7 linked regions of the Homo sapiens genome follow. The protein of the gene in region 1 purifies or fractionates together with the protein of each later gene. This does not show direct contact. Each region holds a gene or a part of one and is shown in the gene's direction. Other genes may lie near its edges. The genes, in order: SLC5A8, TVP23C, SLC25A46, CACNA2D1, SLC25A23, CYB5B and GPR89A.

Region 1 (4,544 bases):
GGTATGGATTACACATAGTTCATGGCATTATGTAAATGTTATAAAGCAAGATGACATAGCTTGGGAAAACAAAAGCTGTGTCTAATAGCAGTACTTCCAAGCCATAACTTACAGTAGCCCAATTCTCAATAAATTGGAAGGCAGCTAAACAATCATACAGTGCTAGTATTTTATAGTGTCAGGGTCTATTCACATATAATCTCATTTAACCCATTTTAATTCCGTGAGATAAAAACCAATATCCCCATCTAAGATATGGGAAACTAAGACGTAGAAGAAAGCACTTGGCTAAGATATCATGGCTCGTAGGTGGCAGTCAAGAGGTGAGTTTGCAGTCTACAGATTTAACCTCAGACTATTCTGCTTCTAACATGACTATAGAAATGTATTGATCATTAGCTGCCTGAAGTTCTGTTCTTAACTCTAGGTGTCCAAAAGAAGATGAATTTTGTTTAGATAGCATTTTCCCATATCTAGGGCTGTTGGCTTTAAAGAAGTTCCCAGAAGTGAATCCAATTCCCAGAAGGATCAAGGTGGATTCTTTTGTGTGTTACTCTAACAGGTTGCTTTATATATATATATAAGTTATATAATATACACATATAATTTATGTATTATATATAAGTATGTATAACATCATATGTAATATATAAATATAGTACATTTCACACTGGTAGGACGTAATTCCAAACCACATATTTGTTTAACCAATTGAATTACTTGGATTTAGTTTCTATTTCCCTCTTTATTTCCTTCTGAAAATATTATACAAATAACATCAGTTTACAAAAAATAAAATCTGATATAGCTTTTTTATCATACACTAGGCTAGACTAAATGCATTCTGTGGATTGTTTACCTAGGACCAGATGGTATATTATAAAGTTGTATACAAATGAACAAGGACTGCCTGAAATGGATTGATAGCTGAGCACATTTGGCTGGAGCGTCTATTTTAGAAGGAAAACCTGAGAATCATATTATTTGAGTGTGATTCATGTGTTAATAGTATTTCAAGACAAGCCACTTAAAATATGTCCTGAGTGGTGATGCTGGAAATGATCTTTTCTTCAGTGTTTTCAAGTGTCTTCATTTAAGTGTACACATTTTGCCTACCTATAACACGTATCTACACATTGTGATTAAGAGAGCAAACTCTGAAATCAGACCTAGATTAAAGATCTTAATCTCTGCCAGTTGATTGGGCAAGTGACTTAATCATTCGACAGTAATTTCTGCATTTGAAAATGCCTATCTCAAGGGTAATGAGAATTACACTGGTTCACCAAAAGAATTACACTGACTAATATAAAACGTGCCAAGCATGTATGTGTCACATGAAGGCTCATTAAAAAGCGGATATTATTGTTAATCTTCCAATAACTACTATTTCCAACAACAGGCTGAAGGGGCTCAGAAACGTTTGTTGAGTAAAAACACAAGGAAACAGTAGCACAGATTTCCTGCTCTCCTTTACGATCGATGACCTGTCTAAGGACTGTGATCTCTGTTCACTACAGATTGTCACCTGCATTAATCTACTGTCACCCATTAACCTATCAAATAAGGCAGTCTAAAAACTCCAGGCGTCCCTTTCCGTAAGGACCCGGACTGTTGAACTGGAAAGCTAAAATTCAAGGCGTGACAATTGCCCTTTGTCCCACATTCCTCCACCGGTCGCCTGCTTATTTAAATGGTGCGTCCCCTCGGGTACCACTTGAACAAAACCTGCCCAGAGCGCTCCCTGTGTAGATTCGCTGGAAGCAGCTGGAGGCTCCAGTTCTCATCTGCTCAGGTGTCCCCGGCGCCTTGGCGAACTCGGCCACTCCAGTTCCTCACGTGGTGAGCACTCAGGGCAGCGGGTCGATTTTCCGAGGTCCCATACCTGGGTTTGAGGGGCGCGGCTCGCAGCGGCGGGTGCAGGGGCGACTGCCAGCCCTCACCCCGCCTCGGGGTGCGTTCGGAGGCCGACACCTGGAGGACGCCTCCAGTCCCCGCGGGACGCCACGCCTGCGCGCCAGGGATCCGGGATAAGAAGTGCGCGCCGGGCTCCGGCTGCGCGCCGCGGGGCCACCAGTTTGCGCGCAGGGCTCAGGCGACCGTGCGGCCATGGACACGCCACGGGGCATCGGCACCTTCGTGGTGTGGGACTACGTGGTGTTCGCGGGCATGCTGGTCATCTCGGCCGCCATCGGCATCTACTACGCCTTCGCTGGGGGCGGCCAGCAGACCTCCAAGGACTTCCTGATGGGCGGCCGCAGAATGACCGCAGTGCCCGTGGCGCTGTCCCTCACCGCTAGCTTCATGTCAGCCGTCACTGTCCTGGGCACCCCCTCCGAGGTCTACCGTTTTGGGGCCATTTTTAGCATCTTTGCCTTCACCTACTTCTTTGTGGTGGTCATCAGCGCGGAGGTCTTCCTCCCGGTGTTCTACAAACTGGGAATTACCAGCACCTACGAGGTAAGGGGCAGGGTGGGCTGGGACCATGCAGGGCGCGGGGGAAGGGGACTCTGCAGACCTCTGGAGGCGTTTTCTTGGGGGCAGACTGTCACTGCCACATCGAAATCTCTCCCCGTCCATCGTCATCATCACCCTCCCTTCACTCCTCCCCGTCCCCCGATCTTCACCTGGCATCTTTCCCTTCTACTGAGAGGCGTCCTCTAAGGGTGAAAAAATTCTTGGGATTTACTCTCCTGGGCTTAGTGAAAAAAAGAGGCTTCCAAAGTGAACGGATTGCAACAGTAGTGCTCGCTATGGTCCTTTCTACCTTTAGCATCTTTGATTCCCAGGCAAGGGGAAAGATTTTTGGGGAAGGTAAGTTCTTCAGGTCTCAGGCCCTGCTTCTTGAAAGGAATACTCTTGTTCCAGGTCCTCAGCCCCATTCACTCTTCCAAGATAGTTGGTAAAGAATTTGTACTCCCCTTCCTTCCCCTTCCACACCCACCCCCTTTCCACTGAAACAGGCACCCAAGTGGCTAAGGTGTACCAGTACCTGTATTTCGGACCAGATTCTACCACTTACTAGCTGGGTGACCTTGGGTGACTTACCCAACCTTTTGTGCCTATTCCTCAAAAATAAAATAATATCACCTACCTCATCCAGTTGGGAGGATTAAATGAGATGATGCAAGGTGTAGCATTTAGAATAGAGTTTGACACAGAGTAAGTGCCAGATAGGTATTGGCCATAATTACTGTGGTGGTGCTAGTTGTGATGGTGGTAGTTATCTTGGGATCAGTAGGAAAATTAGGCAGCAAGGTTCTCAAACAGCTCTGCCTTCTCTATGGAAAGACAATTAAGGAAAACTGTCTTTCCTCTATTGCACAGGTCCCCTGGCTATAGGTTTTCTCAAGTTGTCTGCAAGAAAGGGCTTTGAAAAGATGATGCACGTTTAGTTTAAAGAGCTGTTGAATGGGAGGTGGGGGCGGGATCAAAGCTCAGGGGAGTGGCGGGGCCCAGTTCAGTGCCTTCAGTGGTCTCCCTCACCCAGCACTGGTCCTTGAGCTACATGGGACAAGCCTGCAGAAGTTTCCTCTCTATTAGGCCATTACCCAGAGGACTCCAATCCTGAGATTCTGGCAGGTGGTTTCCTAGTGAGGCTGGTTCAACTGGTGCTGGGGACAGGGCCTTAACGGCACAACAAACATTGGTGACACACTCTGCCTGGGCTCTAGTGACATCTTCCAGGGCGAGGCACCCCTGGGCAGCATTGCCTTCCATTCACTCTGGGGCTGTGTTTGGGAGAGCTCAATAATTATCCCAGAAGTGAGCAGGATGCAGTTTCTCAGGTTTGCTCAGAAGTGACAAACTGGCGAAATTCCCCAGACCAAATTCACTTCTCAGTCATTTTTTTTTTTTACTTCTCCTTATAGTGAGAAGAAATAAAATATAATTTCAGACTATGACTTCTTTCGAGAACTCAAAAGGCTGGTAACACTGGGCCCATGCTCCCTGTGGCCACAGGAACTCAAGTTTATAGCTATTGCTCTCACTCTCTATTAAACTTCTATATTGAAGTCTTATCTTTGTGTTTTCATGGTTACTGTTTTTTTGGTAGAGAAATTTTTATCTGCATTTATGTCTTTATCAAAAAATGTGAAAGGCAAAATGGACAGGGGTAAAGGGATCTCTTGTTTCCAGGGAGATGTAAGAAAACATATATCTTAGTGGGTGGGAGGAATATTCCAACATGTTAATATGTGAACACCTGGCCACTGTCACTTATGTATGTTACCTGATGGAACCTGGAGGCATCTGAGTCTGTGAGCTGTGATCTATAGCTAACCAATTCCCAAACTTGGAAAGGGTTTGAAGAATCTGGCAGGAGGACTTCAGTCCCCACACATGAATGCTGCTCTCATAACCACTGACCCATGCCTCTTCGGGGCTACAACATTAACTCAAGCAGAAACAGATTTCCCTCATGCTTGCAGTGGTAGAGGCTAAGTTAGCAGGGGTTCCAGCTAAAAATGTCAAAAAGCAAAAGTTCATTGAATGCTGAACACATGCCAGGCACTGGGCTGCATTGCATGTTTTACATACAT
Region 2 (3,921 bases), on another chromosome or scaffold:
CTACTCCAAAGAAACAGAACTAGAAATTAATAGAAAGTAGTTGTTGAAATTGGAATTCTTTTAAAAAAGCGAACTACTACATATCTTGGGTTTAAAAGGAAGCAAAAACTGTAAATATAAGTTATTTATACCTTAATGGTGATCATTTACAGTTAAACTTTCTGAATATGTCAAAAACTGAATTCAGAGGGAAAATAATAGACTAAAGCCTTTTATTTTAGACAAGAAAGAGGGAAAATAATGGACTACTTGAGTCCAGAAATTTCAAAAACAAGCAATAAGTGTGAGAAATCAGGAAAATAAACTAATAAAGATAAAAGCAGGAAATAAAGAGTTAGAAAATGGAAACAGAAGAGTTTGAAAGTATTCTGAGAGCATTCTTTGAAAATACCTATAGAAGAGACCTCTGGTTTAGGTCTCCCTTGCCAGCTCTTTTTTTTTTTTACTTAGCATCTCTCCCATAGGAATTTTGGTCTCATAAGACTCTTCCTTTTCTTCTCCTGTATTCCCTTCCTAAGGAGTGCTGTCTGTGCTTCTGGTTTGAATTGCTGATCTGTAAGCTGTGTTGCCTCCCAGATCTGTATCTCCATTCAGGTTTGTCCTCACAACTTAAGGCCTCTCCATGTGTCTTCTTGACGTTTTTATGTGGCTGTCTTGAAGGCATCTCAAATCTTTTTTTTTTTTTTGAGACAAAATCTTGCTTTGTCACGCAAGCTGGAATGCAGTGGTGTGATCTTGGCTCACTGCAACCTCTGCCTCCCGGGGTTCAAGTGATTCTCCTGCCTCACCCTCCTAGATAGCTGAGACTACAGGCATGCACCACCATCCCTAGCGAATTTTTGTATTTTTAGTAGAGGCAGGGTTTCACTATGTTAGCCAGGCTGGTCTTGAACCCAAGTGAGCCACCATGCCTGGCCAGGCATCTTATATCTTAACATGTGTAAAATACTACTTGTCATCTTCCACTCCCCAAAAGCTCTTCTTCTTTGAGTGTTCCCTTTCGTGGGGCCTGGAATCACTATTTTTTTACTTGAGCAAACCGTAAATGTATCAGTTGCCTCCTTCCTACTCCATATCCAATTAATGACCAAGTCCCATAAATCCATAGATTGTACTTTCTTCATTAGGGCATCAGTGCCTGCTGCTCTATCTGGAATGCTCTTCTTCCTCCCACATCACCTTCATACAGGGATTCCTAATCTTTTTATGCCATGGGCCCCTTTCATAAACTCATGAATAAGTTTTCACATATATAAAATACATAAGATTTCAAAGGAAGTCACTTATATTGAAATATAATTTAAAAATATTAAAAAAGTAAATTTCTGATTGAGTTATATGTGTAGTAGTTCCCCCATTATCTGAGGTTTCGCTTTCTGCGGTTTCAGTACTGCTATATGCTACGCTAAACAGTAAGATACTGTGTGAGGAGAGAGAACTACATTCACATAACTTTTATTAGATTATGTTGTTATAATTGTTCTATTTTTATTTCTTATTCTCTTACTGTGCATTATTTATAAATTAAGCATTATCATAGGTATGTACTTATAGGAAAAAATATAGCATATATAAGGTTTGGTATTAACCACAATTTGAGGCATCTGCTGGGGGTCTTGGAATGTATCCCCTGCAGATAAGGGAGGACTACTATACTTTATGAATTTATTAATGGTAAGATCTAGTGGCAGGTCTAATAACTACTTTCAAAGCAGTGGTGAGCATAAACAATATGTTAAGATAACTGCAGCAAGTATAGTACAAAATGAAAAATGTCTGTGGTTTCTATTGTGTCAGGGTGTTTTTAATTTTACCTATGTTCATAGTTTGTTGTCTACATTCATAATTTAATGATATGCTAACTACTTTCAAAGCAGTGGTGAGCATAAATAGTATTTTGAGGCCGTGCGTGGTGGCTTACACCTGTAATCCCAGCACTTTGGGAGGCCAAGGCGGGTGAATCACTGAGGTTGGGAGTTCGAGACCAACCTGACCGACATGGAGAAACCCCATCTCTACTAAAAATACAAAATTAGCTGGGCATGATGGCGCATGCCTGTAATCCCTGCTACTTGGGAGGCTGAGGCAGGAGAATCGTTTGAACCCGGGAGGCAGAGGTTGTGGTGAGCTGAGATCGCCCCGTTGCATGCCAGCCTGGGCAACAAGAGCGAAACTCTGTCTCAAAAACAAAAAACAAAACCAAACAAAAAACAAAACTACAATATTTTGAGGTAACTGCAGCAAATATAGTACAAAATAAAAAAATGCCTGTGATTTCTATTGTGTCAGGGTGTTTTTAATTTTACCTACATTCATAGTTTGTTGTCTACATTCATAATTTAAAGATATGCTAAATTTTAGCCAGAGGTTAATGAAAATGAAGGTAACATTTTTTTTTACCCATCGAGGTTCACAGAACCACTGAATCTATTAGTGGACACCATTAATTAAACATCCATGGTACTGTTGATTCTTATTTATCTTTTATATTTCATTCCAAATGTTGACTCCTCAGAGAGTCATTTTCTGATACCCAGACTAGATCAAATTTCCCTGTTATACTCTTCAAGCATCCCACACTTTTCCCTTGCAGGACTTAACTCAGTTGGTAATGGTACATTTGTGCATTGGTTGTCTGCCTCTCTTCACCTCTTTCCCTGAGGAAGGAGTTGGTATCTGTTAGTCACTGTTGTATTACCAGCACATAGTAGATGCTCAGTAAATATTTGTTGAGTAAATAAAGATTAGGAAAGCTATCAAACTAATTTGTTACCTTAGTAAGTAGGAAAAGAGCTTGGTACACTTGAGAGACTGACTGAAGGCCAGTGTCTATAATCATTTTCAGGGATATGTAGTTGTAAAATATATGTAGCTATAGTCAGGATGTAAAGTAGGTCACAGTAACCAAATAGCAAGGGGTTTAGGGAAAATTAGGGAACTGGAGAAAGGGCAAATTGTTCATGAGGGAAAAGAGAAGGTGTAATGTTTATGGGTGGACTTGTTGCTTGCTCTGTCACCTCTACCCCTATTAGTCCTGCCATTACCATTTTACTTAATCGTTTAGCCAGGCCTGATACATAGTAGTCTTTGCTAACTGGATATTATGGAGGTAAAGCTGAAGGTTTTTGTTTGTGAAATGTTACACTAAGATAGGAGCTTGTGACAGATCTTTAAATAATGCTTTTAAAATGTGCCTGTTTATATTAATCTTCACCAGAATGTCACAGGTAGACTAATGGTTGGCCTACGTTGGTGGAATCACATTGATGAAGATGGAAAGAGCCATTGGGTGTTTGAATCTAGAAAGGTAAAGTGCCTTTTTTGTTTTAAATAATGTTATCAGCTAAATTATTTGTAGACTATATTTAAATACTGGAAGATGAAGTATTCAGAATTAAAAACACTATACCAAATCACTTGGCATGTCAGCACTAAAGGAGATGGCCTTCTAGAATTTAATGCATTTTTCTGTCTAGTTCAGACCAGAAACAAGCAATATACGAACAGAATCCTTTGAGGGAAGACACTGGGTCTGAGTTCATACAGTGTGCTAAGCTGCCTGTCAGGGATTGCTGATAAAAGATCTCTGTGTTGCCTTTGTTAGTGTCTCCATAAATCCCTCTATGCTCAGCAGATAACTGCTTTTAACATCTTGTTCTGTCTTTGCTCCTGTGGTCGTCTTTCATTTCTGGGCAGGAAAAAGGAGGAGGAGTGCAGCTGGATAGAATATCTGATTGGAGCACTCTATTCCTAAGCTTCTGCCTTCAGGAGCCCTGGGGATCCTGGTCTGTTTTGGGTTAGCCTGCTACACTATAGTGAATATTCACTTTCCTTGTGGAAATAAGTTTTGGAAGCAGAGGACCAAATTCTTGGCGACAGTACACCAAGGGTATTGACAAGTTATTTTAAGAAAGTGGCACT
Region 3 (3,921 bases), on another chromosome or scaffold:
AGGGGCGGTTAATATTTTTTTAAGAAGATAAGTAAAGGTCTCACTGAGAAGGTGACATTTGTGTAAAGATCAACATGCATATTTGGGAGAATATTCTAAGTAGAGGGAAGGCAAGTGCAAATGCCCTTACATGGGACTGTGTCATGTGTGTTGTATCATACATGCTTGAGAAGTAGGAAGGATGCCGATGTGGCTGGTGCTAACTAAGCACAAAATAAGCAAATGTTGAATTGTATTTAGAGGGAAAGCAGGTGCAAAAACTCTCAAGTGGGACTGTGTCATGTGTGTTGTATCACACATGCTTAAGAAGTAGAAAGGAAGCTGTTATGGTTGGTGCTAAGTAAGCAAGGGGGGAATACAGGAGATGAGGCCTGAGTGGTAAGAGGGGACCAGATTACATAGGACATTGTAAATCATTGTAATAATTGGGCTTTTGTTTGAGAAGGATGGAAAGTCTTTGATAGGTTTGAGCAGAGCGGTGGTGTGATCTGACTTACATCTTTATTAGGATCTCTTTGACTGTTGCATTAAAAATAAACTGGAGTGGGAAGGATGTCAGGGTCAGAAGTAGGAAGATGGATTAGAAGGCTAGGCAAGCTCACTGTCATCTCATAGTTTTAAATATCATCTATTTACTAAAGACTCCCACATTTATAATACAGTGCTCCTCCACTCACGATGGGATTACATCCCAATAAACCTGTCATAAATTCGAAAAATCTTAGGTTGAGACATCGTAAGTTGGAAACCATCTGTAGGTCCATTGTGTACCTTTTTCTGTAATTTCTATTGTGAACTCCATTTGGAGTTAATTTACTTAACATTTCTGAACTCTTGATCTTCACCAAATTGCTACTCTGGCAATTTTTCATCTCAATAAAAGGCAGTGCTATTCCCCCAGTTCCTCTGGACAGCAACCTTGGGGTTATCCTTGACCCTTCTCTTGCATACCCCAAATGCAATTCACCAGTAATTCCCATAGACTTTGATTTTAGGATAAAAGCACAATTGAACCACTTTACTTCTGTTGCCACCTTCTAGTCCAAGCCACCATCATCTCTTTGTTACTGGAATCATTCCAGTAACTTTTGAACTGGTTTCTCAACTGATCTTGTTCTCCTTTGCACAACAGCCAGTATTCTTTCAAAATACAAATTATGTCATGTCCGTCTTCTGCTTAAAATCAACCAGTTATTTCCCATCTGACTAGAAGCCAAAGTCTACAGATTAGTCTCTAAGGCATGATATAGCCCCTGGCTACCTTATAAATTTCATCTGCTACTTTCCTGCAGTCATTGCTGCAGCCAAAGTGCCTTTTGGCAAGTTCTTTTCTATCTATCTATACCTCGGTAATCCACATCAAACTTTCTTATTCATATCCCCAAAATTCTACAAAAGCAGACATTGCAGGTGGTAATAAGACTAACATTTATTGAGTGACTCCTGAGTGCCAAGCCTTTTTTCATTTAATATTCACAACAACCCTGTGCATAAAAAGTAGACAGTGCTCATTTCCATTTTTGTAGAATGCGAAACTGTGCTTAGGAGAAGTTAAGTAACTTGACAATGGTTACATAGCCAGTAAGTAATGGAGCCAGGATTTAAACATGTTTAAGAACTATAAGCACTATATTGTCTCCTTAAGCGTTACATAGTTATTGCCTTTCCATGTGAGTTCTAAGAAGTTTCTTGAGATGTATCCACCTACACATCTCCCCAGTCTCCCTACCCCAATAAGATTAGCTCCCAACTTCACTGCTAGCAATTTTATGAGATTTCATTTGAAAAAAAATCTGATGCCTAGATAACAGTTAAAGTCTGCAAATCATGGATGTTTCCCTCTTCAGTCACTATGTTAGGATTTAAAAGGAACCTAAAAAGAGTCCTTTTTCTGTGGCAAAATAAGCAAATGTTAAGTTTTACTTATTTCATCATTTTTATTTCAGAGTGAGATAATTCGAGATAATACTGGCATTTTGGAGTGTGTTAAAGAAGGAATTGGAAGAGTGATAGGCATGGGAGTGCCTCATAGCAAACGACTTCTTCCGCTTCTTTCCTTGATCTTCCCTACGGTGCTTCATGGAGTTCTTCATTACATCATCAGCTCAGTTATTCAGAAGTTTGTCCTACTAATTCTAAAGAGAAAGACTTACAATAGCCACCTAGCTGAGAGCACTAGCCCTGTGCAGAGTATGTTGGATGCTTATTTTCCAGAACTTATTGCTAACTTTGCTGCCAGTCTTTGTTCTGACGTTATACTTTACCCATTGGAAACAGTTTTGCACCGCCTTCACATTCAAGGAACACGCACAATAATTGACAATACAGACCTTGGCTATGAAGTGCTTCCAATTAATACACAATATGAGGGAATGAGAGACTGTATCAATACCATAAGGCAGGAGGAAGGAGTGTTTGGTTTTTATAAAGGGTTTGGTGCTGTTATAATACAGTACACACTGCATGCAGCTGTTTTACAGATTACCAAAATTATTTACTCTACACTTCTTCAAAATAACATTTGAGATTTAGGTTCCTTCACTGAGTAGTCTGGAAGATATAATCTGGATAATTTGCTATGAAGTTATGAGGGATACAAGTGAAATACTGGGGAAGAAAATGGATTGGAAAGTAAAATTGGTACTAAAGCCCATACTGATTATCTTGACTTTGTTTTTTAAGGCATAGGTATATATTTTGGATCAAAATCCTTCCAAATTTGAAAACTCAATAAAAATAACACTTATTAAATTCTAGTTAGTGTAGCACTCATGCTGAAGTAAACATGATCGTAGGCAGAAGCAAAATTTTATTATAAAATCTAAAACAAAACTTTATAGAGTTGAATCTATTCCATCTGACTTCAATATTTGCCAAACGTTTATTTTACCTCCTAGATTGATGTTGGTATAGTATCCTTAATACAGTGTAGTATATTAATGTCCTTAATACAATCAGGAGGTTTTTACCTTTAAGCAAATAAATTATGTCATTATTGAAAAAGACTTAAGGGATGATTAGACTTGGCAATCTGTAAGCAGGAGTATAAATGTTTTAAATTGCATTGTCCCTATGTAACTATCTTAATGGCTATATATATGTATTTTATAAAGCCATTTATGTATACACATGTAACTTGGAATTTCCTTCATCCCTACACATTTTCTACACTTACATCACCTTATTGCATAAAACAAAGTCACGCGCTTTCTGCTTGAACATCAAAATATCAAAAACCAAGGTACCCAAAAGATACAAGTCAGAGACAACATCCTTGTCCATATCCAAACCCAGTGTTTCAGTGCTAGCAACTTAATTTCTCATACATTTATAGAGTTTGGTTTGCTTTGCTAGTTGTGTGAATCATTGGGCTGTTTTTAGAGCCACTGTTAAGAGAGAATATAAAATAATCATGACAATTACTACTGTTTCCACATTTACAAATTGTGTACTTAAATGAACCTCATTTCCCTTTTATTTCTGAATGGCTTGTCTGAGAGGAAACAAAATTAAAATTCATCTGGGAATTTGTGCCTCTTGTCTAGTATATAGTCACCACTAAATAATGGCTTCCGTTTTTATTTTCTTTCAGGTTTTGCTTTAAATTTTGTTTTCCAAAATAGATGTACGTGGAGGGAAAAGCAATTATTCTTATCACCTTTTATTTAAACTTCTTTAGATGAATACTGAAGAAAAATCCAAACCTTAAAGGAAATGTGCCCTTGTATTTTATGGGTGAGGGGAAAAAGTACATTTGTACATTTCAACATATAATAAGCAAAAAAATTACTAATCAGTTTAATAAAAACATTTTGTCTATTCCTAAATGTAATTTGGTGGGTTAAGCACTTTGTGTAGTAAAATGATATGTGTCTGCTCTATCATTAGACATTTTAAAGTTTCATGTCTTCACGTGAATAA
Region 4 (4,621 bases), on another chromosome or scaffold:
GAGCTGTAGTTCTCAATCCCATTACATCCCACTTCATCCCTCATTTGCGCAGCTCCTGCTGCCACAGTATCCATGCCTAGCATAAAACAAACTAAGTTAAGTCACGGTGGGGTGCCTTTTGTGAGGCCACTCAGAGTAGAAAGAAACAAAGAGCAAGACAGAGATGCGAAGAACATAAAGAAAACAAATAAGGCATTAAAAAAAGGAGAAATAAGTGGGAAGGAAAAATAAATTCACCAGGCTAAGCATCATAAAATCACACACGCTCTTAAAATTTGGCCAGTAATTAATAGTAGTAGTATTATTATTAGTCTTTGTTTTGGGAGATTGCCTTCAGAGAGCTGGAAAATTCATTTCGAATTAATAAGGGTCTTTTTCTTTCAGAAGCATCTCCTAAAAATAAGAACGGGCTAATTAAAAATCTGACAGCCACCCCGATACTTACAGAATTTTTGCATATGCAGGATAGTCATCACAAATTGTATTCTCTGCACGTCATGTCAAAAGTATTCTCATACACTACTAGAGGGAGCTTAAGAATTTAAGGTGTGCAAGAATATATTTCTATCTTTGGCCCACCAGGGCCCTCTTGTAGGAGGCCTGTGTTGGGCGGGAGAGGCCTAGTCGCAGACCCTGTCTTTTCAAGGAGAAAGCCCGCCACTGCTTCCTCTGAGTCTGGAGATAAAACCAGTCCGGCATTGCTACTCCCTAGCTCTCTCCCCCTCCCTTAATTCCTCCTCTACATTTCAGGCGCATTTCTCAGAGTGCCACCTGTTCCTGCTGCTTACCCTTTTCATGCCTTCGCATTGACAAAAGTGAGCTCACCCTGCGGTAACCTTGTCAGGCAGGGCAGGCCAGTGGCCAGAGCAGGGCGTTAGGACCCTTTTGGAGGTAGTCCCAACTGGGATGCTGCAAAGCGCTTCTCTTACTACTGTCCTCCCTAGATGCAGAATTCGTCCCTCCACCCCTCTGTCCAATGGAACCACAGGGCTGGGAAGATTTTACAGCGTCAGTACTTCTCTGTCCGTCCACAGCCCGGTCCCTGAGGCTCTGTCCTCGCCAGGTGAGCCGAGCAGTACCTGGGCGTGGGACCGCTGGCACAAAGGGCACCCAGCCCCGGCAGAGGCTCTAACCTATGGCACACGCGGGCATATAGTGCCACCTGGTAGAGAGTCAACAGTGGTGCTTTAAAATGCAATACAAACCCCTCCTACATTTGTTGTCAAATCACTTCACGATTCCCAGGCAGGCACTGGATTCTGCGCCTGGGAGTAGGGCTGGGGGGGAACGCTGCCTGCATGTGCAAAAATAACCCCCGAAGACGCGAGCCAAGTCCTGGGTTGGAGCCTCTGCAGCCTGTGGATGCCCGCTGGGCGGCTGGCCGTCCCCCGGGAGCCCCGCGGGGCTGGTCCGCTCCGCCTGCGCACGCCGGGCGGCGGGAGCGAGCCGGCGCCGACTTTGGGAGTTCCTGGCTGCCTTGTATGGAGGGCTGCTCCCGGCCCGTCTCCGCCCGACTGCTCTGACGCCCAGCCCTCCCGCTGCCCACCCCCAGCCGCCTCCCTCTGACTTGCCTAAGAAGCCAGACGGAGCCTCTCGCTTCCACAAGTCTCTCTGCCTGCCATTCCCCGATTCCTGCAGCCACCCCCACCCTCCAGCGCCGTCACCCCTCCTCCGCCCCCGCCCCCGCCTCCGCCTTCGCCTCGGCAATCGGGGGAATAAATCAGGGAGGAAACCGAGAGGGAGAGCGAGAGCGCGCGAGCGCCGGCGGGCTCGCCGAGGTCTGTTTCCAAAGTCGCCCTTGATGGCGGCGGAGGCAAGGCGGCCGCGGCGCGGAGCAGCCGACGCACGCTAGTGGGTCCGCCCGCCACCGCCCCTTCCTCGGCGTCCGCTCCCGCCCTTGCCGTCCCCCGCGCGGCTCCGCGCCTCGGGCCCCGGGCGCAGCCAGCCCTCCAGACGCCCGCGGTCCCGGCGGCGTGTGCTGCTCTTCCTCCGCCCGCGGTTTCCAGCGCCGCTCCTTCCCCCGCTTGGGCAGGGAGGGGGCATTGATCTTCGATCGCGAAGATGGCTGCTGGCTGCCTGCTGGCCTTGACTCTGACACTTTTCCAATCTTTGCTCATCGGCCCCTCGTCGGAGGAGCCGTTCCCTTCGGCCGTCACGTAAGTCGGCGGGCCGGGCAGGGAGCGCCGGCCGAGGGGCGCCGCGGGAGTTGGGGGTGGGGGTCGGTTCCCGAGTCGCGGGGCTTTTCCGCCCGTGGGGGTGGGGAGCGAGCGGCCGGGGAGCCAGGCTCGGATGCGGAGACGCCGGGCAGGCGGTGCGCGCCGCTCGCCGCTGGAATGCGTCCCGAACCGGCGTCTCGGGCGCCTCCACGGGGCCGGGCACTGGGGGCCGACTGTCCCGGGAAGCGCCCGCCGACGACTCGCGGCGTCTCAGCCCGTCTCTAACGGGATTCTCTAGACTTCAGAGTGCAGCCGTACTGGGGAAAAAAGTTTCCAGCCAGCTCACCCGCTCTGATTCAACCCAGTTCAATAAAAAGTTATGTTTTGGTTGGGTAATTTACAAACAGGTAATTTCAGGCTTGCCGAGGTAGCGTGGACTTCCCCCGCACTTGGCCTCGGAGATGCTCTTTAATTGCTGTAGTGCCCAAACTCGTTTTATCCCACGTTACTGGATGCACTTGACAGCCTTCCGATTAGACGCGTGCTGGCTCCCCGCGGCCGAGCGTGCTGTCCACGCAGGGGGCTCGCAGGTACTGGGACCACGCGATCCAACCTCCCCAACCCATTATTTGAAACATCTAAGTGTCGGCAGACACGCGGTCCCTGTTCTTCAAATGAATAGAGCCTATTCTTTGAAGGAGGGACTATTTCCAGTCTCCTACAAATTTTCTTTTATTTTTACCATTTCTAAAATAACTTTTAAAAACCTCGCTGCTGTTCTGGAAATAGAGGGCTTATAGGTAGCTATAGTCACACCACAGGAAGGGAATGAAAAATAATAATTCTCTCCTTTCTTAGCAAAATAGAATCAAACTCAATGGCACATATAAATATATACATATTTTTTAATGCACCGAATAGCCTATCCGGCATTCTGGGAAAGCATTTATTTTGGTTCTTGGAGCTTCTTTAAAGCTTCTAAAGGTAGGTAATCTTAAGTGGATGAGTCACTTTAATGCATTTTACATAACAAAAACAAAGCCCAAGGTAGCTTTCCCGGTATTTATGCTGCTGGGAATTACTTGCTGTCCTTTGTTGGCTGAGTGCTGAATACAGGAGTTTTTGGTGGAAAGTAACAGTGAATCTTTAGCGGTTGAAATCCTGCGGCTATTATTTAAGATTCAGTTTTAAGTATTTATTACCTTAGGTGTCAGTGCAAGAATCTGGAGGATGCACATTCTATCCCGGAGAAGGGGAGTGTCTAATTTTTGTTGTCATTGAGTTACAGTAATGTTCCTCTTTAGATAATCTTCCATAAAACTGATTGCAGATCCTTTTTGTTATGAAGCAAAAGGGTAAATGCCATCTGGAGATCTTCGTTTAATTGGCAGGATGTTCCAGTCAGATATTTTTAAACATAAAAAGAGTAAGAATCACCCTAAGGATGCTTCAGAATTATTTACTCTTATTAAGGCATCACACTTCCATTTAATTTTTTAAGTCTGTTTGTTGCTTGGCCTGTAAAGTGAGAACTCAAATGAGTCGCTTGCATTCTGTGTCAAATAAATAAGTGGCTCTTTAAAAAACAATCACTTCCTAAATGTGTTCCGATTACTCATTTTTACAGTGTTGTTTTTAACTGACAATTTATCAATATTTTTATCATGGGAGGGGATACATCATCATACCATTGGGGAAAACTACAACAAAATACAACCTTTTATTCCTCAACATACTGTGGTAAAATATTAATGTAAAAATCCTTATTGTTAAGAAGAACATCTGCAATAATGCTTTCCTAAAATTATAAGTAAATCAATTTTCATGGTCAGAAATTTACTAGACACAAGAAAGAGTATATATAGTGGGTTAAAATGGGAAGTAGGACATCACAATTTCTTTTCTTTGGAAGGATCTGAAATTTTTTTTAACGATGAAAATTCAAGATATTTTCAAATTATATAAGACATTGATTATTTAATGAATGAAATACTTAATAAAAGGTTTTGTGGAGCGAAGTCAATCTCCTGTAGGTAATCTTAACAATATTTTTGGAAGCCTTCTGCATCTTCAGTTTTTCATTTGAAAAGTTAGTAACACTGTCTTCTGAGGAAAGAACTGATGGTTGACATTTGTACTTCATGTTAGATTTCTGAATAAACTTTATGAAATTAAAAAATGCAATATTTTTCATAAAGATGTGCCATTTGCTTTTCTTTCGAGAAAAGAATTCATATGCACTGTTTAATCAGGACAAATCTCAAATCTTTGGGGGAAAATTTCAAATTTATAAAAACTGAGTGCAAAGACTGTAGTGTCAATAAAGGCAAATTATTATGCTTCTGTATGTAAATTTCTCTCGGAATCATTAGTAAATATTTTTGGGTTTTTTTTTTTGCCAGTTTCATTTTTCACAGAAAAAGTAATGTAAGAAGTTTTTATCAGCTGAAGAGGAAGAGCATGCC
Region 5 (3,921 bases), on another chromosome or scaffold:
CACACCTATAATCCCAGCACGTTGGGAAGCCGAGGCCGGTGGATCACCTGAGGTCAGGAGTTCAAGACCAGCCTGGCCAACATGGTGAAACCCCAGCTCTGCTAAAAATACAAAAATTAGCCGAGCGTGGTGGTGGGCACCTATAATCCCAGCTACTCAGGAGTCTGAGGTAGGAGAATCGCTTGAACCCAGGGCGGGGCATGGGGGTTGCAGTGAGCCGAGTTCTTGCACTGCACAGGTGACAGAGTGAAACTCCATCTCAAAAAAAAAAAAAAAAAAAAAAGAGTTGTGAGTAGAAATAAGATGCGGCCAGGAGCAGTGGCTTGTGCCTGTAATCCCAGCACTTTGGGAGGCCGAGGTGGGAGGATTGCTTGAGCCCAGGAGTTCGAGACCAGTCTCTATAAAACAATTTAAAAATTAGCCAGGTGGCCAGGCACGGTGGCTCACGCTTGTAATCCCAGCACTTTGGGAGGCCGAGGCGGGTGGATCACAAGGTCAAGAGATCGAGACCATCCTGGCCAACATGGTGAAACCCCATCTCTACTAAAAATACAAAAAATTAGCCAGGCATGGTGGCGGGCACCTGTAATCCCAGCTGCTTGGGAGGCTGAGGCAGGAGAATGGCATGAACCTGGGAAGCGGAGCTTGCAGTGAGCTGAGATCGTGCCACTGCACTCCAGCCTGGGTGACAGAGCAAGACTCTGTCTCAAAAAAAAAAAAAATAGCCAGGTGTGGTGGTGCACACCTGTAGTGCCAGCTACTCAGGAGGCTGAGATGGGAGAATTGCTTGAGCCCAGTACGCAGAGGTTTCAGTGAGCTGTGATCATGCCAATGCACTCCAGCTTCAGCAACAGAGCAAGATCCTGTCTCAAAAAAAAAAAAAAAGAAAGAAAGAAAGACAGAAAGAAGACACAGTCTTATTATTTAATGCATTCTTTACCCAAAAAGGGACTTTAAAAGTCTAAGAGGTTTTAGAAACCTTGGAGTTTCAAAATCTGTGTTTGTCCCTTAAAGGCTCCGAGAAGTCTCTCAGTAAAGTGATTTAACTTTTTTTGTTTTTAACCCAGTGCTGGCCACATTAATCTAGTCTTTAGAACTTTTTTTTTTCTTTTTTTTTGAGACAGAGTCTCACTCTGTCACCCAGGCTGGAGTGCAGTGGTGTGATCTCAGCTCACTCCAACCTCTGCCTCCCAGATTCAAGCAATTCTCCTGCCTCAGCCTGCCGAGTAGCTGGGATTACAGGTGTGCGCCACCACGCCAGGCTAATTTTTGTATTTTTAGTAGAGACGGGGTTTCACTATGTTGGCCAGGCTGGTCTTGAACTCCTGACGTCAAGTGATCCGACCACCTCGGCCTCCCAAAATGCTGGAATTGCCAGGTGCAGTGGCTCACACCTGTAATCCCAGCACTTTGGGAGGCTGAGGGGGGTGGATCACAAGATCAAGAGATCAAGACCATCCTGGCCAACATGGTGAAACCCCATTTCTACTAAAAATACAAAAAATAGCTGGGCGTGGTGGTGGGCACCTGTAATCCCAGCTACTCGGGAGGCTGAGACAGGAGAATCGCTTGAACCCAGGAGGCGGAGTTTGCTGTGAGCCAAGATCGCGCCACTGCCCTCCACCCTGGGTGAGAGAGCGAGATTTCATCTCAAAAAAAAAAAAAAATGCTGGGATTACAGGCATGAGCCACCACACCCGGCCGTCTTTAGAACTTCTTTTCAACAGATTGATCTTAATAATAACCCATTAAACATCTATTTGGCAAGTGCTGTTCTAGACCCAAAAGAAGGCTTCTAAAATTTCAAAGGCAATAATGTTAAGTACTTGCCTATTTTACCCAGTCTGTGCCTGGGCTAGGCATTACTAATCCATCACAGCACTGAGTCCTGCTCAACACAATTCCAGTTTCAGGCAGCAATTTCTGGTGGATTAGAATTGGCATAGGAAATGAAACCTATAAGCCTCTCCCAGCCGCAAAGCAAAGAAGGTCTTGTTCTTACAGTCACCTTGGCAGAAGGCTTCAGAAGGGATTAGCCACCCTAAAGTCTTCAGGTGCACAGTTCTAGATTCACATACAGCTGTGAATGTTGGTTCTCACCTTTATTTTGTAGCTTTGGGCAAGTAACTTCCCGAGCCTCAGTTTCTTTTCTATAAAATAGAGATAATAGGGCCGGGCATGGTGGCTCACTCCTGTAATCCCAGCACTTTGGGAGGGAGAGGCAGGCAGATCACTTGAGGTCAGGAGTTGGAGACCAGCCTGGCCAACATGGTTAAACCCTGTCTTTACTAAAAATACAAAAATCAGCCGGGTGTGATTGTGTGTGCCTGCAATCCCAGCTACCTGGGAGGCTAAGACAGGAGAATTTCTTGAACCCGGGAGGTGGAGGTTGCAGTGAGCTGAGATTGTGCCGCTGCACTCCAGCCTGGGCGACAGAACGAGACTCCGTCTCAAAAAAAAAGCAAAAAATTAGCCAAGCCTGGTGGCACATGCCTGTAATCCCGGTGGCATAAGCCTGTAATCCCAGCTACACAGGAGGCTGATGCAGGAGAATCACTTGAACCTGGGAGGTGGGGTTGCAGTGAGCCGAGATGGTGCCATTGCACTCCAACCCAGGCGACAGGGTGAGACTGTGTCTCAAAAAATAATAATAAAATAAAAATAAAGATAATTAGCCGGGTGTGGTGGTGCACAGCTGTAATCCTGGCTACTCCAGAGGTTGAAGTAGGGAGGATCACCTGAGCCCAGGAGGCGGAGGTTGCAGTGAGCCGAGATTTCACCACTGCACTCCAGCCTGGGTGTGAGAGCGAGACCCTGTCTCAATAATAATAATAATAGTTTTGGTCTTAGTTTGAGATCCTTCCAAAACAGACCCTGAAACTGGGACGTGAGGACAAGTGATTTATTGGGGAGGTAATGAGACAGGGAGTCAATGCACACAGTATGAGTATGTTAGTTTCCTAGGACTGCTGTAACAAAGTATCACAAACTGGTTGGCTTAAAACAACAGAAAGTTATTGTCTCACAGTTCCAGAGGCCAGAAGTGCAAAATCAAGGTGTCAGCAGAGCCATACTCCCTCTCAAACTTGTTAGGGGAGAATCCTTCCTTCCTTCCTTCTTTCAGTTTCTGCTTGTTCCCAGCAACCCTGGACATTCTTTGGCTTGTAGATACATTCACTCAAATCTCTGCCTCCGCTGTCACCTGGCTGTCTTTCTCCGTGTGTGTCTCTGTCTTTCTCCTCTACGGACACCAGTCATACTGGACTAAGGGTCTACCCTGTTACCCTACTCATCTTAACTAATTAGATCTGCAAAGACCCTATTTCCAAAGAATGTCACCTTCTAAGATACTGGGGGTTAGGACATCAACATGTTCCCCCCCAAAGGAGGGACATGATTCAACCCGTAACAGTATGTTATCAAGCAAGTTACTATTCCTAGCAAATGGAGTTCCAGCCCTCTAGAGATCTGTGGGAGGCAGCATAAGACATGCTGCACCAGAGAGATGAGGGAGCTGGGGTATTGATCCACCAGGTCAGTCTTTTGAAGGTTGCATCTGGAGATGCTAATTTCCCAGGGCTTTCTGCCCATTCCTAAGTGGTCAGAGCCGGCTGGCCTGCGTTCAGAGAAAGTCCACAAGCAAAGTCTTTGGGTAAATGTTGGCAGTAAGAAGTCAGCAGGTCTGAATTGGAGTGGGAAGGGATGAAGGTGGTGTACTCACAGCATCTACCACAGGCAGTGTCGTTGGAGAGTGTTTTTTTGTTCATTTGTTTGTTTTTGAGACAGTCTTGCTCTTATTGCCCAGGCTGGAGTGCAGTGGTGTGATCTTGCCTCGCTGCAACCTCCGCCTCCCCGGTTCAGGCGATTCTCCTGCCTCAGCTTCCTGAGTAGCTGGGATTACAGGTGCCTGCCACCACACCG
Region 6 (3,921 bases), on another chromosome or scaffold:
TGTTGTAATCTATGAAGGAGTTTTATTGTCCTTTTACTCTGAAAGGCAACACAATAGTTGGGTTGTGTCAAAAGGAAAAAATATCATCCATAGTTTAGGTGTATAGAACAAATTGGGACATAATTCCAGAACTGATGACTTAGTTCCACAACAAAGAACAGTTTCACATATAATAACCTGAGAGTTTCAGATATAATAACAAGTGAATCGTGGCTGTCTTACTCTTGCTGTAAAATAGCATTCTTAAATACTGGGATGTGAGACCCACTCACTGGGTGGAGACCTTTTAGGAGATAAAAATAGAAGTTATCCTTATCCTCAGGGAGCTCATAGGCTGGTGACTATGACTGGGAAGTAACACTTACAGTTTTTATACTTCAATTGAATTAACATTTATTTAAAATAGGAATGATAATTTATTCCTGCTGAAATGGTTGTTATAAAAAGTAAAAAGCATTAATATTTCAAAAATACAAATTTTGATATATTAAATAATATAAATTCTAAATTTGCTAATTTAAGTAAATGTTTTTTGAGTATTTAAGTCAAGGACTGTGCTAAATATAATTTTACAAAATGGTTAATTTTCTGAGTAAGTAATGCTTTATTTGGTAAAACAGTTTCAGAGGCTGGGCATGGTGGCTCATACCTTTAATCCCAGCACTTTGGGAGGCCGAGGCTGGTGGATCACCTGAGATTGGGAGTTCGAGACCAACATGGAGAAAAACCCCGTCTCTATTAAAAATACAAAATTAGCTGGGCATGGTGGCGCATGCCTGTAATCCCAGCTACTTGGGAGGCTGAGGCAGGAGAATCGCTTGAACCCGGGTGGCAGAGGTTGCGGTGAGCTGAGATTGTGCCATTGCACTTCAGCCTGGGCAACAAGAGCGAAACTCCATCTCAAAAAAAAAAAATTTTTTTTCAGAAGAGTATGTGGTGAAGTCTTCCTTCTACCCTATCTCCCAGCCACTAGGTTCTTTCACCATTTTCAGAGAGATTTTATGCATGGGTATAAATATGCATATATATATCTTCATTTAAAAATTGTAGATGGTATTATATTATGCTCTTCTGGAGTGCAAAGTGTTTTATATGCTTATCTCATTTAATATGTACAATAGTTGTCAAGACAGGTACTCTTATTAATATTTCCATTTTACAACTAAGGAACTAAAGACATCTCAATTTTTTAATAACTTGTGCAGGGTCACATAGCTGATAGTTATAGAATCTACTTCCTGAGGCACTACTTTATATAGTTAACTTATTTATTTATTCATTTATTTTGAGTCAGAGTCTCACTCTTTTGCCCAGGCTGGAGTGCAGTGGCGTGATCTTGGCACACTGCAACCTCCCCCTCACAGGTTTAAGTGATTCTCCTGCCTCAGCCTCCTGAGTAGCTGGGACTGCAGGCACCCACCACCACCATGCCTGGCACTTTTTGTATTTTTAGTACAGACGGGTTCACCAAGTTGGCCAGGCTGGTCTTGAACTCCTGATCTCAAGTGATCTGCCCGCCTTGGCCTCCCAAAGTGCTGGGATTACAGGCATGAGCCACCGTGCCTGGCCTAGTTAACTTTTTAATTTGAAACAATTTCAAAGTTACAGAAAAGTTGCAAGAATAGAATAAAGAATTGCATATACCCTTTGCCTGGAGTCCTTAGTCAGGTTTCTGCAGCTATCTCAATAATATTGGCAAAAGGAACCAACCTAGGATCACCCATTATTCCCAGTTGTCATGAATCTCTAGCCTCCTTCAATCTGGAACAGTTTCTTCACTCTTTCTTTGACTTTCATGACTGTGGTATCTTTAGAGATCACAGGCCAGACCTGTCCAGAAAGATTTTGTAGAATATTTCTAAATTTGTGGTTGTCCCAGGTGTCCTCACTGTAATCCCCATATGATGCATTTTTGACCACAGTATCACAGAAGTTATGCTGTGTTCTTCCCATTGCATCCTGTCAGGCACCACACAATGTCAATTTGTTCCATTATTTCTATTAAAGGGAGAAAGGAAGAAGGGGGTATGGGAAAGTAACTTGTTGGTTTGCTTTTCAGAGAACCCTCGGTTCAGTAAATATCTTTTCCTTGTAGCACCCTGGAGGAGAAGAGGTTCTGCTGGAACAAGCTGGTGTAGATGCAAGTGAAAGCTTTGAAGATGTAGGACACTCTTCTGATGCCAGAGAAATGCTAAAGCAGTACTACATTGGTGATATCCATCCGGTAAGAACTATCAGAGATGGGAGCCCTTATGCAGAGAAAACTACTTAACAGCTGCAGAACAGGATGAAGAAATGAATTATTGGCTGGGCGTGGTGGCTCACACCTGTCATCCCAGTACTTTGGGATGCCAAGGCAGGCGGATCACTTGAGGTCAGGAGTTCGAGACCAGCCTGGCCAACATGGTGAAACCCCACCTCTACTAAAAAATACAAAAATTAGCTGGGTGTGGTGGCGCACACTTGTAATTCCAGCTCCTCAGGAGGCTGAGGCACGAGAACTGCCTGAACCTGGGAGGCAGAGGTTGAAGTATGCCAAGATTGCACCACTGCACTCCAGCCTGGGTGAAAGAGCGAGACTCTGTCTCAAAAAAAAAAAAAAAATTATTAAAATGGAAATTCATTCAATCTAGCCATCAGGCTAAATTTTCTCCAAAATTGTCTAGTCTTACTGTGCTAGGATATAGCTTCTTCTTTGCCAGGTAGCACATGTAATATCTCTAAAAAGCTAAGGGAACTGATTCTGGATTATTTTTATGTGTTGATTTATTTTTGTAATGCAGTTAATAACACCTTTACCTAAAATAGTGGTTTGCTTGTTTTTGCAAGCTCCTTGCTAAAGGTAGTAATTATGGACTTTAAAAACTATCCATATATACCATTCTAACAAGGGACTCTGATATGCTCAGAGTAGAGGTATCTTTCTATGGATCCTCAAATCTCCCAGGGAATTCACTATCACCAGAATATAGTCTCATGTTCCAAAGTTAGAAACAAGCATATAGTGAGAATTCATTTGGCTATGTCTTAAAATATTATTTGTTTTCCTTTTTTTGACAGAGTGACCTTAAACCTGAAAGTGGTAGCAAGGTAAGAAGTCAGCGGTTTGTCTTGTGTTTATATTTGTGTTTACTCAAGTAGGACTGCTTTTTGAAACATTTTTTCTTAACAAGAGAAGTTACAAAGTATTTACTTTTTCCCCAAGCAAAAATCCTATTTTTCTGGAATTTGGACTCAGTATCATCTCAGGAATAAAAGAATAGCTGAGTCTTGAACAGTAGGAAACATTTTGCTAATGCCTTTATACGCTTTTTTTTTTTAACTGAAACTCCAAAGCTATGCCCTGTGTGGTTTTGAAAGAAATTAGTTTATGGGTTCAGTTGTGGAAAAATATCTTACTTTTACATTATGTAGGACAAGTGATAATAATTGTTTCTGTGTTGGAAAAAAATAATTGCAAAGTTGTTTTGTTTCTTATAGGTTATCTTCTTTATCTGTAATACAGAGGCCTTTCTGTACTTATTTTCCAAATTTAATTCTTTTTTCCTGTAGGCTCAAACAGGCCCACACCCTTCCCGGTTACTTAGTAATACAGCGAAAACAAAAGACTAAGTATTTGAGTGTTTGAAAACTTTAATGTGTACTACATTGCATACCAGGAAGAAAATATGGAACCATTTTCTGCCTCCCACATGCTAGGTGGTTCATTTCCCTTATTCCCTAACAATTTTCCTTAATTTCTGTCCTTCAGATAGCTGGTACACAGCACTCTAATTTAAAGGGACAGCAGTTTAGGTGCCACCTAGAACATAGGAAAGTGATGCTGCCTCCCTTCCATTTTCCTCCTCCTTGCTGCTTGCTTCCCATTCCTCATTGAGCCGAAATTACTGAATAGGTTTGACACAGCAATTAAAGTTGGCC
Region 7 (3,921 bases), on another chromosome or scaffold:
TGGCCTCAAGGAAGTCTGAGAAGGGGCTTTTGGCTTTCTAAACTCTGTAGTACCAAAACAAATGCTGGAAAAGGATATTGGAATTAATGTTGAATGAGCCAGTGTCTATTATAGAATCTGCCATACCTCCCACACACCCTTCCATGTATACTGATTGCCTATAGCAGGAATTTCGGGAGAGAGGTTATGAGACTCTCCTGCAGTAAGATCAGAGGAGATATGCAGTTTTGAAAAGCATATGCAATACCATAAATAGTTGTGTATTTTTAAAATAAGAATAACTTTCAAAATTTCAAATAACGTTAAAGGCCGGAAAACTTAACATAACACCAGCCTGCCAAAAGCATTCAAACTCTTAGGTGGCGTATGAGACCTTTCATGACCTGGCTGCTGCTCTCTATACATGTTGCATTCTCCAGTCCTGTGAAATTATTTCAAGTTTCTTTTTTTTTTTCTTTTTGAGACAGGTCTCACTCTCACCCAGGCTGGAGTGCAGTGGCATGATCTTGGCTCACTGCAACCTCCGACTCCCAGGCTCAAGTGATCCTCCTACCTCAGCCTCCTGAGTAACGGGGACTATGGGCGCATGCCACCATACCCGGCTAATTTTGGTATTTTTTCATAGAGATGGGGTTTCTCCACGTTGCTCAGGATGGTCTCGAACTCCTGAGCTCAGGGGATCAACCCACCTCAGCTTCCCAAAGTGCTGGGATTACAAGTATGAGCCACCACACCCAGCCTCAAGTTTCTAGAGCTGTTCTATCAGCCTGGACAATCCTTCACCAACCCTGTCTACCTAGAAAATGCCTATTTATCCTTTCTAGATTCAACTCTTGTCAATTCCTTTAGGAAGATTTTCCTGGCCATCATTAGGAGATATTAATTGCTACCATCTCAAGGTATCTATATCATCTATAAAACTTAAAATTTCATGTTTCCTTTTCTAACTTCCTCATCAACCTATGGGCTCCCTGAGGTCAGAAAACTCCATGTTATTTGTCTTTGTATCCCCAGTGCCTAGTGTGGAAACTGACACATAACAAGTGTTTAATACGTGTTCTTTGAATCAGTGGATGGAAGAAAATTGAGTCTCTCCAAAGTGGTAGATGAGTTTACTACTTTAACACTCTGGATAGGAATTTAGGAAATGCTAATGTGATCAGCATGCCTATGTCAATGGTCAACAAAGGGAACGACTTGCACTAAAGAGTCCTGGTAGTATAGTTCTCATATAAACCTATTTCAAAGAAACCCACAGACAGACACATTTATCTGTGACGGTAGAAGTCAGAGAGAAGAGTTAGAAAAGGCCCCCAGGGCTGCTGACAGGGCAAATACAGTCTCACATGCACTACAAAGACCCGACTCTGACACCTTTCTCCAGCTTTCTCCTGTGTGCATTCAGCTCACATGACCAGTGCAGCCAGGCCGCACCAGAGGGAAGATGAAGGCCATTGTATCTATTGTCCTTTCATCCACCCCTTTTTCTAAATTCTATGGGATTACCCTGAAAAGGACACTGAGGGAGAAAGCTAGGGAGATAGTTTCAGTTTTATTCTTTCCATTGTACTCCAATAGGCATTACAGTTTTATGCCTGAATGTTCAGGTATCTTAATTTATTTAACCCTTTAAGATAAGTAAGGAGGAAGAAAAGTTTAGGTAGTAGCTGAGAAGCAACCAGCCTTACACTGCCTTCTTAGAGCTTTCCCAGGACTGTCCCAACAACCAGTATGGTTGTTTATTGCTGTGGTGACCACAAAAAAATGGGCTGGGCAGGTTGGCTCACCCCTATAATCCCAGCACTTTGGGAGGCCAAGGCAGGGATATCACTTGAGGCCAGGAGTTAGAGACCAGCCTGGCCAACATGGCAAAACCCCATCTGTACTAAAAATAGAAAAATTAGCCAGGCATGGTGGTGCATGCCTGTAATCCCAGCTACTCCCCGGAGGCCGGAGACACAAGAATTGCTTAAACCCAGGAGGCTGAGGTTGCAGTGAGCCGAGATCGTGCCACTCCCCTCCAGCCTGGGCGACAGAGCGAGACTCTACAAAAAAAAAAAAAAAGATAAGACCAATCCTTATGTAAAATGAAAAAAAGATAATCTGTAAAAGTACTTCTTGTGCGGTGTCTGAACCAACCTTGGAATGTCCTTAGTGGGAAAGAGTAAGAGAGATTACAAAAGACTGTAAGGAATCTGTGTGAGCAGGTGGCAAAGGTGAGATGATCTTCTGCTAGTCTCCTTATTCATCTGACTTTCCATGTATTAACTGCTAAATGGGGATAATGATGACTGACTCCTACTTCATAGAAATGCTGAGATTAAGTAAATAGTATCTACAAAGTACTTTAAACCAGAAAAAGATATGTAATAAAAGGACAAAGACACCATGTTAAAAGGAATAAAGGTAGAGGGGGAATTTTTTCAGTTTTTCAAATTTAATAGCCCATATTAATCTCTTGGATTTTTTATGTTACTGAGTGATATTATAGTCAACAAACATTTGTTGAACACCTCATATGTGCCAAGCAGTAAGGAAAACAAAGATCAATAAGAAATGATGTCTTCTTGTAAAGGGGTTGCAAATTCAAGAGGTATACGGCAAGTAGAATAACAGAATTTAGGTGAGGATTTATTCGTTCATTCAGCATTACACAAATATTTATTGAGCATCCACTTTATATAAATTAAGCACTGGAAATAAACCACAAACGAAACAAACTTGGTTTCTGCCCCCCTGAAATTGATAGTCTTGTGGGTGGAACTAGACAATAAAGAGGTAAATATATAAATAAATAATTGCCAATTGTGATCATTGTCATCAAGGAGTGAACAGGTTGCTGTGATAGAGAAAAATGCCGATAATGTAGTGCAAACAGTTAGATCCACCCTTTCTGAGACAGGGATATTTAAGCTGAGATTTAAAGGACAAGACCAAAGGAAGACCCAGCAAGAAGGCACAGGAGACATCATGTAAAGCCCTGAGGCAGAAAGACCTTGGTGTATTCAAGGAAAGGCAAGAGATAGAATGGAAAGTAATCGTATAGTGTATAGATTTTATTGTTAGGGTGATTATGTCATTTTCTAAGACAGGTAATGCAGAGGAAGGAACAAGTTGAGGGGAAAGATAATTTTAGTTTGGTATATGCTGAATTTGAGTTACTTATGCATATCCAGGTGATGTTAAATAAGCAATTGGATGTACAAATCAGGAGCTTAGGGAAAAGGTGTACATGTATCAGTCCTCATAGAGATGACTCCAGGAATCTAAACAACTAGAAATCATCAACTAAATGCCATTAGGTGAAGCTGGGGAAATTGGTGAGATCACCTAAGCAAAAAATGTGTATACTGAAATGAAAGTGAGAACTCTGGTCCAGACAGAGCAAGAAGTGACCAAGAAAAAGCAATTAGAGAAGTAAAAGGGAAAACCTAGGGAAATGGTGTTGTGGAAGCCAAGAAGATAAAATAATTTTAAACAAAAATGATTCAATGTCATAAAAGAGCCAATGAAACAAGGATTGGAAAATGTTGAATTTTGCAACCAGGGGAAAACTTATTACCATAGTGTCGTAGTGGTTAAAGCCCAGACTCTGGAGCTAGACTGCACTTGAATCCTGACTCTGCCCCTTTTATCTGTGTGGCCTTAACTAAGTTACTTAACCTCTCTGTGCCTCCATTTCTTCATCTGTAAAATTAGGTTTTCAATAATATCTACCTCATAGGATTGTTATGAGGGTTAAATGAATTAGAACATGTGAAATGCTTAGAACAGTGCCTAGTCATAGCAGGTGCTTGGTGAATATTACCTATTGCCATTACAATTACTAGTGAAAGTAATTTCATTCAATAAAGAAGAATGGGAAGAAAGCTGGATTGCAGTCAGTTAAGGAATGAACTGGAGGTGAAGAAAAGGTGACAA

Evidence for each region.
Region 2: the proteins of SLC5A8 (region 1) and TVP23C purify together in Homo sapiens (affinity purification with mass spectrometry, with the first as the bait; 2 studies listed by BioGRID). This does not show direct contact.
Region 3: the proteins of SLC5A8 (region 1) and SLC25A46 purify together in Homo sapiens (affinity purification with mass spectrometry; 2 studies listed by BioGRID and IntAct, with this or other methods). This does not show direct contact.
Region 4: the proteins of SLC5A8 (region 1) and CACNA2D1 purify together in Homo sapiens (affinity purification with mass spectrometry; one large-scale study listed by BioGRID and IntAct). This does not show direct contact.
Region 5: the proteins of SLC5A8 (region 1) and SLC25A23 purify together in Homo sapiens (affinity purification with mass spectrometry; 2 studies listed by BioGRID and IntAct, with this or other methods). This does not show direct contact.
Region 6: the proteins of SLC5A8 (region 1) and CYB5B purify together in Homo sapiens (affinity purification with mass spectrometry; one large-scale study listed by BioGRID and IntAct). This does not show direct contact.
Region 7: the proteins of SLC5A8 (region 1) and GPR89A purify together in Homo sapiens (affinity purification with mass spectrometry, with the first as the bait; 2 studies listed by BioGRID). This does not show direct contact.

The regions. Positions count from the first base shown.
Region 1 is NC_000012.12:101,207,414-101,211,957, reverse strand, and holds the start of SLC5A8 (sodium-coupled monocarboxylate transporter 1), read left to right. Parts: upstream 1-1,719; 5' UTR 1,720-2,109; coding exon 2,110-2,460; intron 2,461-4,544. UniProt on the Homo sapiens protein: Acts as an electrogenic sodium (Na(+)) and chloride (Cl-)-dependent sodium-coupled solute transporter, including transport of monocarboxylates (short-chain fatty acids including L-lactate, D-lactate, pyruvate, acetate, propionate, valerate and butyrate), mocarboxylate drugs (nicotinate, benzoate, salicylate and 5-aminosalicylate) and ketone bodies (beta-D-hydroxybutyrate, acetoacetate and alpha-ketoisocaproate), with a Na(+):substrate stoichiometry of between 4:1 and 2:1.
Region 2 is NC_000017.11:15,546,445-15,550,365, reverse strand, and holds part of TVP23C (Golgi apparatus membrane protein TVP23 homolog C), read left to right. Parts: intron 1-3,217; coding exon 3,218-3,307; intron 3,308-3,921. Other genes in the region: TVP23C-CDRT4 (uncharacterized protein LOC100533496), read left to right, coding at 3,218-3,307.
Region 3 is NC_000005.10:110,759,258-110,763,178, forward strand, and holds part of SLC25A46 (mitochondrial outer membrane protein SLC25A46), read left to right. Parts: intron 1-1,946; coding exon 1,947-2,525; 3' UTR 2,526-3,921. UniProt on the Homo sapiens protein: Transmembrane protein of the mitochondrial outer membrane that controls mitochondrial organization.
Region 4 is NC_000007.14:82,440,900-82,445,520, reverse strand, and holds the start of CACNA2D1 (voltage-dependent calcium channel subunit alpha-2/delta-1 isoform 1 preproprotein), read left to right. Parts: upstream 1-1,743; 5' UTR 1,744-2,061; coding exon 2,062-2,156; intron 2,157-4,621. UniProt on the Homo sapiens protein: The alpha-2/delta subunit of voltage-dependent calcium channels regulates calcium current density and activation/inactivation kinetics of the calcium channel. Plays an important role in excitation-contraction coupling.
Region 5 is NC_000019.10:6,446,220-6,450,140, reverse strand, and holds part of SLC25A23 (mitochondrial adenyl nucleotide antiporter SLC25A23), read left to right. Parts: intron 1-3,921. UniProt on the Homo sapiens protein: Electroneutral antiporter that mediates the transport of adenine nucleotides through the inner mitochondrial membrane. Originally identified as an ATP-magnesium/inorganic phosphate antiporter, it also acts as a broad specificity adenyl nucleotide antiporter.
Region 6 is NC_000016.10:69,445,055-69,448,975, forward strand, and holds part of CYB5B (cytochrome b5 type B), read left to right. Parts: intron 1-2,095; coding exon 2,096-2,224; intron 2,225-3,060; coding exon 3,061-3,090; intron 3,091-3,921. UniProt on the Homo sapiens protein: Cytochrome b5 is a membrane-bound hemoprotein functioning as an electron carrier for several membrane-bound oxygenases.
Region 7 is NC_000001.11:145,624,901-145,628,821, forward strand, and holds part of GPR89A (Golgi pH regulator A), read left to right. Parts: intron 1-3,921. UniProt on the Homo sapiens protein: Voltage-gated channel that enables the transfer of anions such as iodide, chloride, bromide and fluoride which may function in counter-ion conductance and participates in Golgi acidification.